2 separate regions of the Homo sapiens genome follow, and region 1 is linked to region 2. Evidence: fine-mapped expression QTL. A gene starts in region 2. The other region holds a variant in brackets. All regions are shown on one strand. Distances are from middle to middle.

Region 1 (8,330 bases), 54 kb before region 2:
AGGGACACTCATCACAGCAGTCACAAGTGGCTCTTCTGGACTCCACGGCCCCTGCCTGCCTCAGACGTTCATTTGTCTTTCTGAGTGTAATTCTCTCCCCCGCTCATCCAAGACGGTGTGCGATTGCAGCTCTGTGCCAGGAGGAGGCAAGTGGCTCATTACACCAGACATGGAGCTGCGAGCTCCGGGAGGGAAAGGGGCAGGAGCACGGCAGGCTGGCACATGTGTGGGGTATTTATAGCAGAGCTGAGTGTGGTTTGGCTTGGCAGACAATTGCTAAACACAGTCGTGGAACAGGTTCTTAGGAGAGCTCCCACTTTCCATGCAGAGGAACATCTGCCCGCCGAGGCGAGGGAAGGGGGGCCTGGCACCTCCTGGCGCTGACGGATTGTCAGCGGGAAGCATGGGGGGAAGTCCTATACAACAGCCCCTCCAGGCTTCAAAACACTCTGTTCCATCTCAAATCACCTTCTTCAAGGGTTCTCAAGAGAGTTTGGATGTGCTAAAATTTGTAGAACAAGATGACGATATATAACACTTTTACGACCTTAAGCTAAGTCGCCATCCGCCCACCAGAGCTATTTATGCATCACGTGGCACTCCTCCCCACAGGCAGGGACCAGGCATAGGCAAATGATCATGACTGTCCACGAGCAAGTCAGCCCGGGGCTCAACGGGGGCACTCATGACACAAAACTGAGGGTTGTGGGAACATAAAAGCATGCCCTGCTGTTCCTGAGTGGATATTAGGTAACGGGCCAAACAAGCGGCTTGAAGAGACTCAAGGGACTGGGACGTGTCTGCAAGGATACTAACCAGGCTGTGAAGTCTGGGTTTCACCAGAGAGTGGGGGCAGCGGGGGCTGAGTCAGGAAGTGCCAAAAACAGGCTCATCCATCCTGGGGGCTTCCCATCTCCCTGAGGCTGGGAGCAAGGAAATTCCTTCCTGGTGTGATACTCAGATCCTCAGGCGGGGGTGTGTGGTTGTTCTGTAATTCCCTACACATGGGATACAGCCTGAGTCCAGCAACTTCCAAACAAACAAGAGAACAGGTGGCTGGGCATGGGGTGGCTCATACCTGTAATCTCAGCACTTTGGGAGGCCAAAGCAGAAGGATCGCTTGAGCCTAAGAGTTCAAGACTAGCCTGGACAACGTAGGGAGACCCCCCCCCGCCACCTCTACAAAAAATTAAAAAATTCGCCAGGCGTGGTGGTGCGTACCTGTAGTCCCAGCTACTCAGGAGGCTGAGGTGGGAGGATCACTTGAGCCTGGGAGGTGGAGGCCGCAGTGAGCTATGATTATACCCCTGTATTCCAGTTCTGAGTGACAGAGAGAGACCCTGTCTCTTAAAAAATATGAAAGAAAAAGGCAGTGAGGAAGCAGAAGTACTCACCTGCCACCGTGCCAAAAGGGCCCCAGAGGGTACAGGGCAGGACTGTGGGCACCCAGGCTGTGGAATGCCTCCCTGACTTCTTGCAGTGAGGGGCACCACAGGTGCTTGTCTTCATCTGTCAGGCCAAAAGGGAGCAGAGAGTTAGAATGGGGAACGGAGGGCAGGGTGCACCACTCCCACTGAAGGGGCTGGCCGTGACCCCTGGCCCAAGATAACCAGTTTTTGCCTTCTCTGACACCACAGGTGTTATCTGGGGAAATGAAGCAACTGGTGGTTTCCAAGTACTTCTGGGGCTTTGTGAATTTCAATGTTTTCTTGAATATTCTCTTACCTGGTCTTCAAGGTATGGCTGCACTTGGGTCAACCACTCCCTGACCATCTGGCCATCCACATCAGGCAGTAGTCAGGGTGCTCGGCTGCCCACAGCCAAGTGACACGAAGAGTCCTGTGCCAGAGGCCCCGAGCTACAAGGCTCACTGGACACCAGGCTCACGTCCTTAGACTCTCTTGCTGCAAAGCACCGAGGCTGACACTCAGCCCACTGCAGCCTCTGCAGCACTCTTGCTGCTGCAACATTTGGGCATCCCTAGTCCACCATCCCTGCTGGGAGCACACCTCGCCTGCCTCCCACAGCCTGGGGCGTGTCTCCTAAGCAAGTGTGCGCTATGGGGACCAGTTTCCCTTGCCCAATTTAACCAAACATTCATGATAAAGTCTGACCACATCGGCCGGGCACAGTGGCCCACACCTGTAATCCTAGCACTTTTCAGAGACTGAGGCAGGCAGATTGCCTGAGCTCAAGAAGTTCGAGACTAGCCTGGGCAACACGGTGAAACCTCATCTCTACTAAAATACAAAAGAAAGTAGCCGAGCATGGCGGCATGAGCCTGTAGTCCCAGGATAATTGCTTGAACTTGGGAGGTGGAGGTTGTAATGAGCTGACATAGAGCCACTGCACTCCAGCACTCCAGCAGCCTGGGTGACAGAGCGAGACTCCGTCTCTCCAAAAAAAAAAAAAAAAAAAAAAAAAAAAAAAAAATCTGACCACGTCAGCAAACAGGGAGAACCTTACATACTCAGGTACTCAGGGCCTTTTTTTCTGTCAGACTACTTAAGGACATTTTTATAAGTGGGAGAGTAGAAAGATAAAAAAGAATGGGTCCAGACGTCTTCTCCAAGGATGGCTGCCCAAGACCTCCTGCCCCATGTGTTCTCTGCACCGTGAGCTCCCACACCTCATCCAGGGACAGAGCCTATGTTTCCACTCTGCTCTCATTCCTCAGCATTGTCCGACTTAGCAGTTGACTTGCTTCTCCTTCTGTCTCTCCCCGGTAGAACAGGAGTCCCACGAGGGCAGGGGCCACATCTGTGTTGGTCATCTCTACAGGCCCCATGCCTAAAAACGTGGCCGGTGCATGGAAGAATTAGAATGAATGAATGGAGAGAATCCAAAACAAATCTGACCAAGTACTACACAGCTAAGAGGGTGCTATGTTCTGAGTGTTTATGTATAGCCTCCAAAGCTCATATGTTGAAATTTAATCCCAAGTGTGATAGCATCAAGAGGTGGGGCCTTTGGGAGGAAAATTAGGTCATGAGAATGGAGCTCTCACAAATGGGATCAGTGCCCTGATAAAGGAAGAAGGCCTGAGGGAGCTGGTTGCCCCTTTTACCCTTCTGCCACATAAGGAATTGGCCAGAAGACCTCCTCTTTGGGGCAGAGAGCAGCTCTCACCAGACACCAAATTTGCTGGTACCTTGATCTTGGACTTCCCAGCCTCCAGAACTGTAAGCAATAAATTTCCCAGTTTATAAATTACCCAGACTAAGGTACTTTGTCATAGCATCTCAAATGGACCAAAACAGGGAGACTGAAAACAAGTCATAAGATGGGCTGGCAGTATCCAGAAGGCAGATGTTAAATTTGACAATGGGTGGGGCATCAGATTCAAGAACCTGGAAGCTGGGTTAGGGATACATCAGAAGCACATACGTGAGACTTCACCATTCTAGAGGGTGAGTGTCCCACCCTGAGGACCCACTTCAGCACACTCCACTGTGTTCAGGAACTAGCTAGGTGTGGAAGATAAAAAGGCAAGCTAGAGGAGACCTTGACCTCAAGGAGCTCATGGTCTAGGAGGAACAGAAGCCAGATCAAGAAATACAAGTGAATGTCTTTATGCAAAAATCAAAGCAGGTAAAAGGTACAGAGCCTTCTCAGAGGAGCAGGTGTTACTTGGAGGTGGTGAGCGGACAAGACAAGGAATATGAAATGTGGAAGGTGGAATGGGAATGTCTCTTTTCTGACACAGAGACAGAAAAGACGGAGGCAGGGCAGCACAAAGCAGCATGGCATGTCAAGACTGGAGGCAGAACAGGCACAAAGCAGGGAGGGCTGCTGCGGGGTGGGGACTTCCGCAAGGACCACCGTAAGAATCAGTTTCCTAAGCTCACTGAAAAGTGCTGGCAACAGTCCTGCCCAGCTGCAGTGCTGGCAGACGGCAGGATGGCGGGCAGAGGGTCTCTGAAACCTGCCCAAGGACATTTCTTCGGCAGGCATCGAGTATCCCTCTTTGGAAATGTATATGGGTTGAGACTCACCAAACAAGTAATTAGACTCTTGGAGGAGGAAAA[A/G]CTTTCTTGTTTGTTTGTTTTTTTTTTTTTTCCTCTCTTGGGCAACTTAACAAGTAAAGAGTGGTAATGATACCCCTTACTCGCCTCACAAACGAGCTGGGAAGAATGAAGTCTGCAAAACACAATGAGACTCCACTGGAAAGAGAGAACTGTTCACCAGGGCCTTCAGGGGACTGTGCACGTATGTGCATGCACCTGTGGGCGGGCAGATGAACTTTCCAGGGAGGGGAAGACAATCAACCTAGGGCGAGGCCCCGGGAGGCCCAGGTGGGTTGGAACCTCCCGCCAGCAGCCTCAGACCCCAAGGAGGTTGTGCCCGCCTCCCCTTGAGATCCCCACCCCAGCCCACACAGAGGCATCTTCTGCTGTGAAACCTCCTGACTCACAGGCAGCAGTGCCCACTCTGCCAGCCTCCAGCTGGGCATCATCCCTTCTCCCCTCTCCTACCCAGCAACTGCTCCACAGCACAGCACGACCCAGGCCAAGGTGTCAGGAGCAGTGTCAGAGGAGGGGCCTGGGAGGCCTCGGGACAGTTAAGTCCCTATCAGCAGCCGTGGAGGCTGGTGACTTGAGGACAGGAAAATACCACCCCGGAGCCCATAATTAACACTGCCTAGAAGTGGGCCATGCACTCAGCTTTTCCTGAGCTCTGTTTGTCCCCGATGAGGGCTTTCTGGAGAGCTGACACAGAGGAAACTCAGATGTCAGGCTGCCAGGCTCCAGCTCCCCAACTCAGTTCCTCCAGACACAGAACAGTCATTTTAGGTGATGCCCAGGGGAGCACCGGAACACTGTGTCTTTTAAAATGCCAGCATGGGCCGGGCATGGTGGCTCACGCCTGTAATCCCAGCACTTTGGGAGGCCGAGGTGGGTGGATCACCTGAGGTCAGGAGTTCGAGACCAGCCTGGTCAATGTGGTGAAACCCTGTCTCTACTAAAAATACAAAAAAATTAGCCGGGCATGGTGGTGGATGCCTGTAATCCCAGCTACTTAGGAGGCTGAGGCAGGAGAATTGCTTGAACCCAGGAGGCAAAGGTTGCAGTGAGTTGAAATCGTGCCACTGCACCCCAGCCTGTACAACAGAGTGAGACTCCGTCTCACAAAAAAAAAAAAAAAAAAAAAAGCCGGGCGTGGTGGCTCACGCCTGCAATCCCAGCACTTTGGGAGGCTCAGGCGGGCAGATCACAAGGTCAGGAGATCAAGACCATCCTGGCTAACACGGTGAAACCCGGTCTCTACTAAAAATACAAAAATTAGCCGGGCGTGGTAGTGCACGCCTGTAATCCCAGCTACTTGGGAGGCTGAGGCAGGAGAACTGCTTAAACCCAGGAGGTGGAGGTTGCAGTTAGCCGAGATCGCGCCACTGCACTCCAGCCTGGGCAACAAAGCGAGACTCCGTTTCATAAAAAAATAAAAAAAAAAATTAAAAAAATTTGCCAGCATGAACAGCCCAAAGACTCTGGGCTCTGTGTAAGAGGCTGTGAGTCTGCAGGCGTCCCTTTAGGTTACCCTTCTGGGATGGAACTGACACTTGGGGGTATGGGGGGAAGATAGAGGAAGAAAATCATCAGGCCTAAAATAAAAGTGGCTTTTCCATCTGTGTCGTGGAAGAAGCTGTTAATTCACTACCGTTCTCCTGGCACCTCTTACATGGAATTGGAAATCCATGCACATCCCAAGAACCTCTTCGGTCACTGGAAGCGCCAGCCTCAGCTCCAAGACCTGGCTCCTGCCCCCCTTCTGGGCCTCCCTCGTGCCCTGAGTCCTCAGCCTGGGCCTTAGGGCTTTGGCGGCAGGAGACTGGGTCTGCAGGCTCCATTCTTATCCTCCCCAACCCCCAAATCAAACAGCTAATGAGCTCTGCTGGGTGGCTGCACTGGGAGGGCCAAGCAGCACCATCTGCCTGAGTTCTAGTTCCCTGAATCCGAGATACCACAGGAGGAGGGGAGGTCCCCATCAGCCTTAATGGGCAAGGGGGCAAGAGGGCCAGGAGGCTGGTTCCTAAAGGAAAGCAAGCTACCCATCCCACTGAGTCCGATCTTAACTGGAGTGCGGGGCTCACAATGTTTACGGGAGGCTTAAAATCCAATTCTTTCATATCCTCCCAAATCTAATCACTTATCTTCCCGCAGCACTTTTCTACTTAAATTTAAACTTGTTTCAATATTGCCAGCTTTAGTCAATTAGCTTTAGCTTTAGTCATTTCAACCGTGCATTCACTCAGCAAATGGCAAGCAAACACCAGGTGCTGTTCTAAATGCCAGGGACCCAGTGGTGAACAAAACACAAAGCAGCCCTGCTCTCGGGTTGTTGGTGTTGGGTGGGGGACACACAACGCACACATGAAAGATACATAAAGCCCAATGATGCTGGGTGGCATCCGTGGCTGGGAGGAAGGGTGGTCAGGGGACGCTGGAGCACCCTGAGTGACTTGGGGAGCCTGGCAGAGACCTGAGGCCAGGGAGCACGGCTGTCTTCTAGGTTGAGCAAGGAGCCCAGGGTGCTGGAGTGGGTGCAAGGCCAGGGGCTGGAGGTGAGGATGGAGAGGCAGATGGGGGCGAGAGAGAAGCAGATCAGCTGGCCTGGAAGACTGGGGCAAGGACCAGGGATGAAGGGAAGCCACTGGACTTGTAAACAGGGAGTGTCATTACCAAAGGGAGCCAGGTCCTCAACAACAACAACAAAAAAATCCTGTATCCCCACACTATGACATATCCATTTCCTATTTTAAAAACATGCACATTTTGTTGCCCCGATGACAGTGTAAGCACAGGATGCAGGCAGACCGGCGTTCTCCCAAAGAGTGCCACTGCCTCTCCTGAGAAAACCGTGTGTCTAGGGAGACACTGCGAAATGCTGACCGCTTGCTGTTCCTGGTCTCTCTCTCACCGGCTCTTTTCCAGATCTGCACCCACATTCTTTTGGAACCTTCTTTTTGTTTCTTCTCTACCCTGCAGCCAGCTCTGAGGGTGCCTTTCTTTCCTTTTTCTCCCCACTCACCCTGAGCCCAAGGCCTTTCCTGTGGTGCCCCTGACAACCTCCCTACCTGGCTATAACCAACTCTGCACCCGCCAACACCATCTCTATAGGCCCCTGGCCTGCTTATTCACAGAAATGTGTACAGGGCAGGTGATGCCATCCCCAGGGCACCTCTCCTTTCCCCTGCCCTTCTGTAACTCACACCACTGCCTGGTGTCACCTAATACCAGCAAGCACTCGAGGCCCCCGGTATGCGTGACAGAGCGACATTGTGCCAAACCACAGAACCACTCATATCTGCTAGAATTAGGTTTGGCTACAAATAACAAAATGGAACAAAATTAAAACAAACAAACAAACAAAAACAAAAACAAAAGAAAAAAACCCACCCGGCCTTCAAAAAGAATTTTATTCTCTGACAAAAAAGAAGTCTGCAAGTAGGCAGGTCACAGCCGGTGCAGAGACCCAACTGTACCTGCAGGATCTCAGGAGCCCGTCTCTCAGCTCTGCTGTTCTTAGCATGTGCCTCTCATGCTCCAGGTCACATCACGGTCCAGCACGGCTGGTAGAGGCCCAGCTATTACGGCTCAGCTCCAGGCAATCGCCTTCTCACTTGGCCACCTAAGCATGCATTCTTGGTTGTTTTTAAGGATACAGGGCTCCCTCAGCACGACTCAGGAAGGTAGCAGTAGCAAACTACCCTTCCAAGTTTGGAAAGCAAAAGGTTGAGACTGGTTTAGACTCAACCTAAGAGTTTCCCAGTAATGTCCCTAAATGAATAATCTATCAGATTCTCTCCCAGTTTGGATTTTCAGGTTTTAATTTTTGTTTGGAGACGGAGTCTTGCTCTGTCACCCAGGCTGGAGTGCAGTGGCACGATCTCGGCTCGCTGCAACCTCTGCCTCCCAAGTTCAAGCAATTCTCCTGCCTCAGCCTCTCAAGTGGCTGGGACTACAGGCATGCACCACCACGCCTGGATAATTTTTGTACTTTTTTAGTAGACAGGGGGTTTCACCATGTTGTCCAGGCTGGTCTCGAACTCCTGACCTCAGGTGATCCACGTGCCTCGGCTCCGCAAAGTGCTGAGATTACAGGCGTGAGCCACCACGCCTGGCCATTTGTTAAAATCCATAGAACTGCACAACACAACCCTAATTTAGGCTATGGACTTCAGTTAATAATGTATTGATATTGTAACAAATATACACACTAACATATGATGTAAATAATAGAGGAAACTGGTGGGTGGGTGGGAGTGGAGAATGAGTATACAGAAACTACTTTCTGATCAAGTTTTCTGTAAGCCCAAAACTGTTCTAAAA
Region 2 (8,330 bases):
GAGGAGATCGAGGTCACCCTGGCCAACACGTGAAACCCCATCTCTACTAAAAATCAGCCAGGCGTGGTGGTGGATGCCTGTAGTCCCAGCTACTCGGGAGGCTGAGGCAGGAGAATGGCGTGAACCTGGGAGGCGGAGCTTGCAGTGAGCCGAGATGGCGCCACTGCACTATAGCCTGGGTGACAGAGTGAGACTCCGTCTCAAAAAAAAAAAAAAAAAAAAAAGAAAGAAAGAAACTGTCCTCTAGGCTGGGCACAGGGGCTCACACCTGTAATCCCAGCACTTTGGGAGGCTGAGAAAGGCAGATCGCTTGAGTCCAAGAGTTTGAGACCAGCCCAGGCAACACAGTGAAACCCTGTCTCTACAAAAAAACGCAAAAATTAGCTGGGCATGGTGGTGTGCACCTGCAGTACCAGCTACTTGGGAGGCTGAGTGGGAGGATCATCTGAGTCCAGGAGGTCAAGGTTGCAGTGAGCTGTGATCGCACTACTGCACTCCAGCCTGGGTGACAAAGTAAGACCCTGTCTCAAAAAAAAAGAAAAAATCTTCGTTTATTCCAAAGTCATGAACATATTTTCATATGCCAGCTTTGAGAATTTTTATTATTTTGTATTTCACACTTGGATCCATAACCCACACAAGAAACATTCTTCACTTTTTAATTGATGTATAACTTACAGTACATAAATATATATATTCATATAGTATATGTACATACTTTATATATATTATTATTTTATTTTAGAGACAGGGTCTGGCTGTGTCACCCAGGCTGGAGTATAACGGTGCAATCTTGGCTCTGCAACTTCTGCCTCCCAGCGTCAAGTCATCCTCCCACCTCAGCTTCCCGAGTAGCTGGGACGACAGGCGTGCACCACCATGCCTGGTTAATTTTTGTATTTTTTGTAGAGATGGAGTTTCACCATATTACCCAGGCTGGTCTCGAACTCCTGAGCTCAAGCAATCCACCCGCCTCAGTCTCCCACAGTGCTGGGATTACAGGCATGAGCCACCGCACCTGGCCTAATTTATTTATTTATTTTTGTTAGAGACAGAGTCTGTCTCTGTCATGTAGACTGGAGTGCAATGTCATGATCACAGCTCTCTGCAACCTTGAACTCCTGGGCCCAAGCAACCCTCCTGCCTCAACCTCCTGAGTAGCTAGGAGTGCAGGTTCACACCACCATGCCCAGCTAATTTTTTTTTTTTTTTTTTTTTTTTGTAGAGACAGGGTTCTTGCTATGTTGCCCAGGATGGTCTTGAACTCCTGGGCTCAAGCAATCCTCCTGCCTTGGCTTCCCAAAGTGCTGGGATTACAGGCGTGAGCCACTGCACCCAGTCTAATTTATTTTATTTTAGAGATATAGTCTCTCTCTGTCACATAGACTGGAGTGTACTGTCATCATCATAGCTTCCTGCCACCTTCAGCTCTTGAGCCGAAGCAATCCGCCTGCCTCAGCCTCCCGAGTAGCTAGGACTGCAGGCACACACCACCATGCCTGGCTAATTTTAAAATATTTTTGTAGAGACAGGGTTCTTGCTACCTTGACCAGGTCAGCCTTGAACTCCTGGGATCAAACAATCCTCCTGCCTCAGCCTCCCAAAGTGCTGGGATTCCATGAGCCACCATGCCTGGCTCTAAATGCACAAATCTTAAGTGTTCAGCATGATTGATTTTTATGTACATATGTGTACATTTAGTATAAATGTGTGTCTGTGTGTGCATATATATACACATATACATACATATGGTAACCATTACCAGATCAACATATTGAATATTTCTTACATTCTAGAAGTACCTCCTCCAGTCAATAACCCCAAAGGTTATACTACTCTGCCTCTATCACCACCGATTATTTTGCCTGTTCTTGAACTTCACATACATAAAATCATATATATATATTTTTGAGACATAGTCTCGCTCTGCTGCCCAGACTCGGATGGTGTGATAACAGCTCACTGCAGCCTCAACCTCCTGGGATCAAACAATCCTCCTGCTTCAGCCTTCTGAGTAGCTAGGACTACAGGTATGTGCCACCATGCCCAGCTAATTTTTATATTTTTCTGTAGAAACAGTTTCATTGTGTTGCCCAGGCTGGTCTCAAACTCCTAGGCTCAGGTGATCTGGTCACCTCAGCTAACAAAGCGCTGGGATTACAGGCGTGAGCCACTGCATCCAGCCAAATCATCAATTTTGTGCACTTCTGCATATATTTTATTCAACATTATGCATGTGAAAATCATCCACGAACTACTGCTAAATGTATGTTGTTGCATGCTATATGCCTGTAGCAGTAGTTCATGCAGCAGTTCAGTAATCTTTATTACTATACAATATTTCATCATATGAATAACTACTACTTATTTATCCATTCCGCTGTTGATGAGCATTTGAGTTATTTCTTGTTTCAAGGTATTATGAATAAATCTGCTATGAATTTTTTTTTCCAAGACAGTTTCGCTTATTGCCCAGGCTGGAGTGTAATGGCACAATCTCGGTTCACTGCAACCTCCGCCTCCCGGGTTCAAGCGATTCTCCTGCCTCAGCCTCCTGAGAAGCTGAGATTACAGGTAGGTGCCACCACACCCAGCTAATTTTTAGTAGTGATGGGGTTTCACCATGTTGGCCAGGCTGGTCTCGATCTCCTGACCTTGTGATCTGCCGCTTCAGCCTCCCAAAGTGCTGGGATTACGGGTGTGAGCCACTGTGCCCTGCCAAAGTGGTACATAAAAACTTTCACTCCGCCACCAGGAAGACAATTTGCCCAACCTGTTCAATACAGTTCCCGCTCAACAAACCCCAATTTAGCATCTTCTATGTGTCAGGCAGTATGCTGAGCATTGGGACCTCAAGGATGAGGAAGATGCAGTCTCTGCCCTAGAGGAGCTTACAGCAGCAGGAAGTTTCTGTCATAGGACAGACCCAGGGCTCACCAAGACTCAAGCAGATGATGAAGCCTGGGGCTCACTGGCCCAATCAGCGTATTCAGACTGGCTGGCTGCTTATGAGGCTCTTGGGCCAGGGCTGCCTGCTCAGTGGGCAGCTGACTCTAGCTGCTGCAAAATGCCTTTCACTCAAAGGTGCTATCTACCAGTGATTATATGGCATTCCAATTTTACCTGGAAGGGAGATGCAGCTACCAGCTGTTTCTTCCCTCTCCCAACCACAAAGTAACACATTTTTCATTTGTCTATCTGTTGTTTCCAGGTTTTTGCTTTTGCCAATCCCCTCCCTCACATGCCTTGAAACAAGCACTTTCAAAGACAAAGACATAAACAACAAAAGGGTGCAGGCTGAGGTGGGTCATCTTCTCTGCCTGCGTCTCCAACTCTGGATCCTGCAGTTACTGGACTCAGGCCATGGCTGACTCCTTCATCACAGCTAAGATGCTGCTGGGTTTAAGGCACTGTGACTTTCTGTGCCACTAAGACCGACAAAAAGCTGCCAAGTGAACGATGACACAAAGAAAGACACAAACTGTGGGACCCAGCCCAACTTCAGAGCTGCTAAAATGTGAACAAAAATGCATCCCGGAATGGATGGAAACCGATCATTCTAGTTGGTGTGACCTGCTCCAGTGCCTACAGTACGTGTCCTGACAGCGTGGGAGGGGATATGAAGGCCCCCCAGTCAAACAGGAGACAGCGTTAGTCTCCAAACTTAACTTTGTTATCTCTTTCCCTCCTGGGGCCCAATACCCGCCAGCCAGGACCTGTTTCTCCTCCATCTCACATTCTTTCCAGGTTCAGGACTGAAGTCGTCTTGTTCAGCTCCTTGACTTGGCCATGCTCACTCTACAATGCAGCCCATGGATGGCGCCCCCTCTGCCCAGCACATCCCTCTGCCTGGGCTCTTGTCTCCCCGAATCCTGCAAACCCCAGCCCCAGCCTTTAGCGTTCAGCCGCCCTCCCCGCTTCCCTCATCCTCCCTCGCGTCCTCGCAGTGAGATTTCAACATGTCATCTCAGTTTTTTTGTTCTTTTACTTTCCTGACTACAAGAAAAATAAAATAATCTGTCTTAAAGTGTAGCATGAGGCCAAATAATTACGGAATCCCAAGTGCTTTGGGCCCTGATGTCAAAAGAGCCAAGATGAATTCAGAATATTACAATGGTGCTGTTTCTGCGAATACTGCTTTTTCAAGACGCCTTATTCCTAACATCATGTTTTATATCCATCCTTTTAAACAAATATTTAATAGCTTGGGAATGCTGGCGAGAGCAGCGGCTCCTGTCAGCAAGGACTGAGCTCACAATTTGAAAGATGAAAGGAGATGCGTTCTACCCACAAAGAAAACGGTCTCCAGCATCATAAACTCCACATCCATCAAACCGGGCAGGGGCTGGGAATAGAAAGCCTTTCTGGAAAGAAAACACCAGCTACCCTTTGCACCCTGGGGAACATTAAAAATCAAAACAAAACATGCCACATCAACCAAAACATAAACCAGTTCTCAAACCAATCTAAGGTTCCACCCCACCAAGGCCGGCCGCGCAGTGGCCTGTGGAGAGGAGGGCCCGGCTCACGTCGGAACCCGAACCACGCGGGGTCGCAGGAACCTGAAAAGCGCCAGAGTAGCCCGGCGGCCGCACCGGGGCTGACCTGCAAGGCCTGGACCAGCCAGGAGTCCCAGGGAAGTCGAGTGCTCTCTGAGCGCTAACCACGCGCCCCTGCGGTTCCTCGGCCTCAGTTTCCTTACCTGTAAAATGGAGCCGCTGATCCTGCCTCCTGAGTTGTGGAGCGAGGCCCGCACCTGGAAGCCTTGGCCACATAGGGCGGGAAGGGCAGGGCTCCGGGGTGAGGGAGGGTGGCGGGAATTCGCACGGCCTCAGAGGACGGGGCCAGCTAGCCGGGAAAGGAAGCAGGAGCAGGCTCCCCAGGCGGCGCAGTGGGAGGACCCCAAGAGTTGCGTCCCTAGATCCAGGGCCGCCAACGTGGAACCTAAAGATCCAGTTCTGGGGATTGAGTTCCGACTCCAAACCAAGCGGCCAGCTCACAGCCGCCGCCGCCGCCAGCTGGGGAGCTCGCCGGCCAAGTGCGCACCCTCTTCCTGTTAGCCCTCCACGTGCGCGCCCTCTTCCTGCTCGCCCTCCACGTGCGCATCCACGTGCGCGGGAATTGGCTGGCGGAAGCTCCTGCCCCCAGGCAGTCCTGGGTCACGCGCACTTGTAGTAGCTTGCATTTACCAAGACAGTGAGACAGTGGCCTGGCGCGGTGTCTCATGCCTATAATCCCAGCACTTTGGGAGGCTGAGACGGGACGATTGCTTGAGCCCAGGAGTGAGAGACCTGCCTGGGCGACATGGCGAAACCCCGTCTCTACTAAAAATACAAAAATTAGCCTGGCGTGGGCAGGGCGCGGTGGCTCACGCCTGTAATCCCAGCACTTTGGGAGGCCGAGGCGGGCGAATTGCCTGAGGTCAGGAGTTCCAGACCAGTCTGGCCAACATGGTGAAGCCCTGTCTCTACTAAAAATTAAAAAACATTAACCGGGCTTGGTGGCTGGCGTGCGCCTGTAATCCCAGTTGCGCGGGAGGCTGAGGCAGGGGAATTGCTTGAACCAGGGAGGTGGAGGTTGCAATGAGCCGAGATCGCGCCACCGCACTCCAGCCTGGGCAGCAGAGCAAGACGCCGTCTCAAAAAAAAAAAAAAAAAAAAAAAAAAAAAAAAAAAAAAAAAAAAAAAAAAGCCGGGCATAGTGGTGCAGTGCCTGTAGCCCCAACTACTTCAGAGGCTGAGGTGAGAGGATCACTTGAGCCTGGGAGGCGTAGGCAGAGGTTGCAGTGAGCCGAGATCGTGGCACTGTACTCCAGCCTGGCGAAAGAGCAAGCCCCCATCTCTAACACACACACACACACACACACACGTGTGAGATAGCTGTGTCTGTTTGGCAGTGATGAGCTTCCCTTTATGGGAGATTTACATAATTATTCATAAAGGAGCGGGAATGGGCATTACTGTTAAGCATGTTACGGGGTCTCCCAGATGTGCATGTGCGTGCTAGTACACCACATCACATGTCTCATTAGCATTTTAATTCCTCACCCAGGGGTGTGTTTTTTAGCATTAAAATGAGCATAGGTCATTCCAAGGACACTCTAATCATGGGTTTCTGCACTTGTGTGAATTTGGGGATTTTCCCTTCTGCTGTTCATCCTCTTCGCTGCAGGATGTTCTAACTAGGAGCCTGATGCAGTTTATGCACCAGTGGGCGGTTTGTTCTCTACATCAATCTGGCAAGTTCATTCCCCTTTAAAGGAGGCTATGACCACTGTATCTAACCGACCTCATTTTCCCCCTCAGAGACTTTGGGTCCATGTTCTTATGAAATGTGGAGGGCTGGGTCATTTTTTCTGGAGCTGCTTCGTGCTGAGACAGGACCAGGGCCCGAAAGTCTCTTCTTGCCTGATTTAAAGTGATAGGGGTCATATCCTCCACTGGGATAAGTTGAAATCCTTGCATAACTATCAATCTAGGAATTGTTGTAACCTAGAAGACACAGACTTTAAAGGAGCTTAAACAAGCAAGGACCAAAGGTCAGTAGTAATAAGATGGCTATTGTAGGTCCCATGAAAGGTAGCAGAATGAAGCATCACATCATTATTCAGCAAGCAGAAGAACAAAAAGAGCTCCTACAAATAGGAGACCTGAGATGGGACTACCTTATGTTAAAGTAATATTAATCTCTTTATTTGGGGTGTTGGCATCTTTTCTTGAAAATGAATGTTAGGTCTTCTATAGGCTTACAAAAGGATTTTTAATTTTTAGTTGTTGATGTAGAGTCCTGTGGAAACGTAAGGGAAACAGTTTTTATCCTAGAGAGATGCACCCAGCTGGCAATGTCCTGGATTCTCTGGACTATGGTGTGTTATGGTGGTCAGCTGGGCTTTTGAGAGTGCTCCTATGAGAAGGGGTTCAGTTGGTTTCATTGGTTTTAAAGAAGCCCCCAACGAGGGTAGCAACAAGGGAGTTAGGCATTCACGTCCTTGAGTCTGCAAATTAAAGGTTGGGTGGCTGGGCACGGTGGCTCACGCCTGTAATCCCAGCACTTTGGGAGGCCGAGGCAGGCGGATCACGAGGTCAGGAGATCAAGACCATCCTGGCCAACATGATGAAACCCCGTCTCTACTAAAAATACAAAAAATTAGCCGGGCGTGGTGGTGGGCGCCTGTAGTCCCAGCTACTCAGGAGGCTGAGGCAGGAGAATGGCATGAACCCAGGAGGCGGAGCTTGCAGTGAGCCGAGATGGTGCCACTGCACTCCAGCCTGGGCAACAGAGTGAGATTCCATCTCAAAAAAAAAAAAAAAAAAAGGTAAAAAGGTTGGGTAAAGTATCTGGTCCGGGTTTTTCATCAATTCCCGTGGCAGTGCAGTGTTTGGCCTATTTGGCCTACTAGGGTCGACGGCAGAATGTAAGGACTGACAGGCTGGTCCCTGTATGTAATAGAAAATTAGCTACACCTGCCACGTGCAGGGTCACTGGATTCCTCTGTGGTAATGGGGACTGAATGACAGCCAGTGTTAGCCTTGGGTCTCCTCAGTCTTTAGTCAGGGCCATCAAGGAATTGGAAGCCCCTGTCTCCCTACGGAGTTGGGGGCAGTCCTGCTTCCGGTGACTGGCATCTCTGCATTGTGGATATGGTCTAGGTGGAGCGGACTTTTGGGCATTTTGTCCCTTGGTCTGGCAGTTTTGGGGCCAGTGTCCTGGTTTTAAGTGTAGCAGGTGTCCCCAGATTGGGGCTTGGTCTGGACTGGCTTGTTCTCTCTGATAGCAAGGGCCAATAATCGGAGGCCTGGTTTATGTCTCTTGCCTCTTCCCTCTTTCACTTTTTAGCCTCTTCTACTCTGTCTCATTATAGAAGACTTCAAAGGCTACATTAATTAGCTCATTCATTGGTGCCTGGGGACTTACAGCCAGTTTTTGTAACTTTCTCTTAATATCTGGAGCAGATTGACTAATAAAATGAGTCCCCAGAAGAATTTGACCTGCCTCAGAGACAGCATCTACATTGGTATATTTTTCTAATGCCTTTACAAGGCACCCCTGTGAAGACTCAAAAGGACCATATAATATTTCAAAGGTGCTGGGTTGCAGATTGGTCTTGGGAGCCGCTCTTACTTGGAGGAACGCTAGAGGCAATCACTTTAATAAGGACTCAGAAGTCTCTTGCCAGAGCTTCGCCAGAGTTTTCTTTACAAGTAGCTTTTTCTAGCTTTCCTGAGGATGGAGGTCTCCAGGAAGCATGTAAATGATCACTTACTCCTAGAGTGGTAGCACTTGCTGGGTTATTTTGGAAACAAAGGAGGGGCCATTGTCGCTTTGGAGTG

Alleles and levels. Positions count from the first base shown, and alleles are read on the strand shown. Sizes are in standard deviations (SD) of each study's normalised expression.
In carriers of allele G in region 1, the expression in testis of the gene that starts at base 5,042 in region 2 tends to be higher than with A alone (large effect, 0.78 SD a copy in GTEx).

What was found. PIP is the estimated chance that this variant, and not a neighbour inherited with it, causes the effect.
Region 1: its variant is fine-mapped to the expression of FAM178B in testis (GTEx, PIP 0.96).

The regions. Positions count from the first base shown.
Region 1 is chr2:96,927,812-96,936,141 of GRCh38, forward strand. It overlaps FAM178B (family with sequence similarity 178 member B), which reads right to left. Exons shown (of 17, transcript NM_001122646.3): 9 at 1,395-1,509. Among named protein-coding and RNA genes, the nearest start is that of FAM178B, 55 kb to the right of the region's middle. The variant A/G (reference allele first, on the strand shown) is at 4,029.
Region 2 is chr2:96,981,539-96,989,868 of GRCh38, forward strand. FAM178B (family with sequence similarity 178 member B) reads right to left here and starts at 5,042. Exons shown (of 17, transcript NM_001122646.3): 1 at 4,703-5,042. The coding sequence starts at 4,775. RefSeq lists enhancers at 4,079-4,599, 4,600-5,120.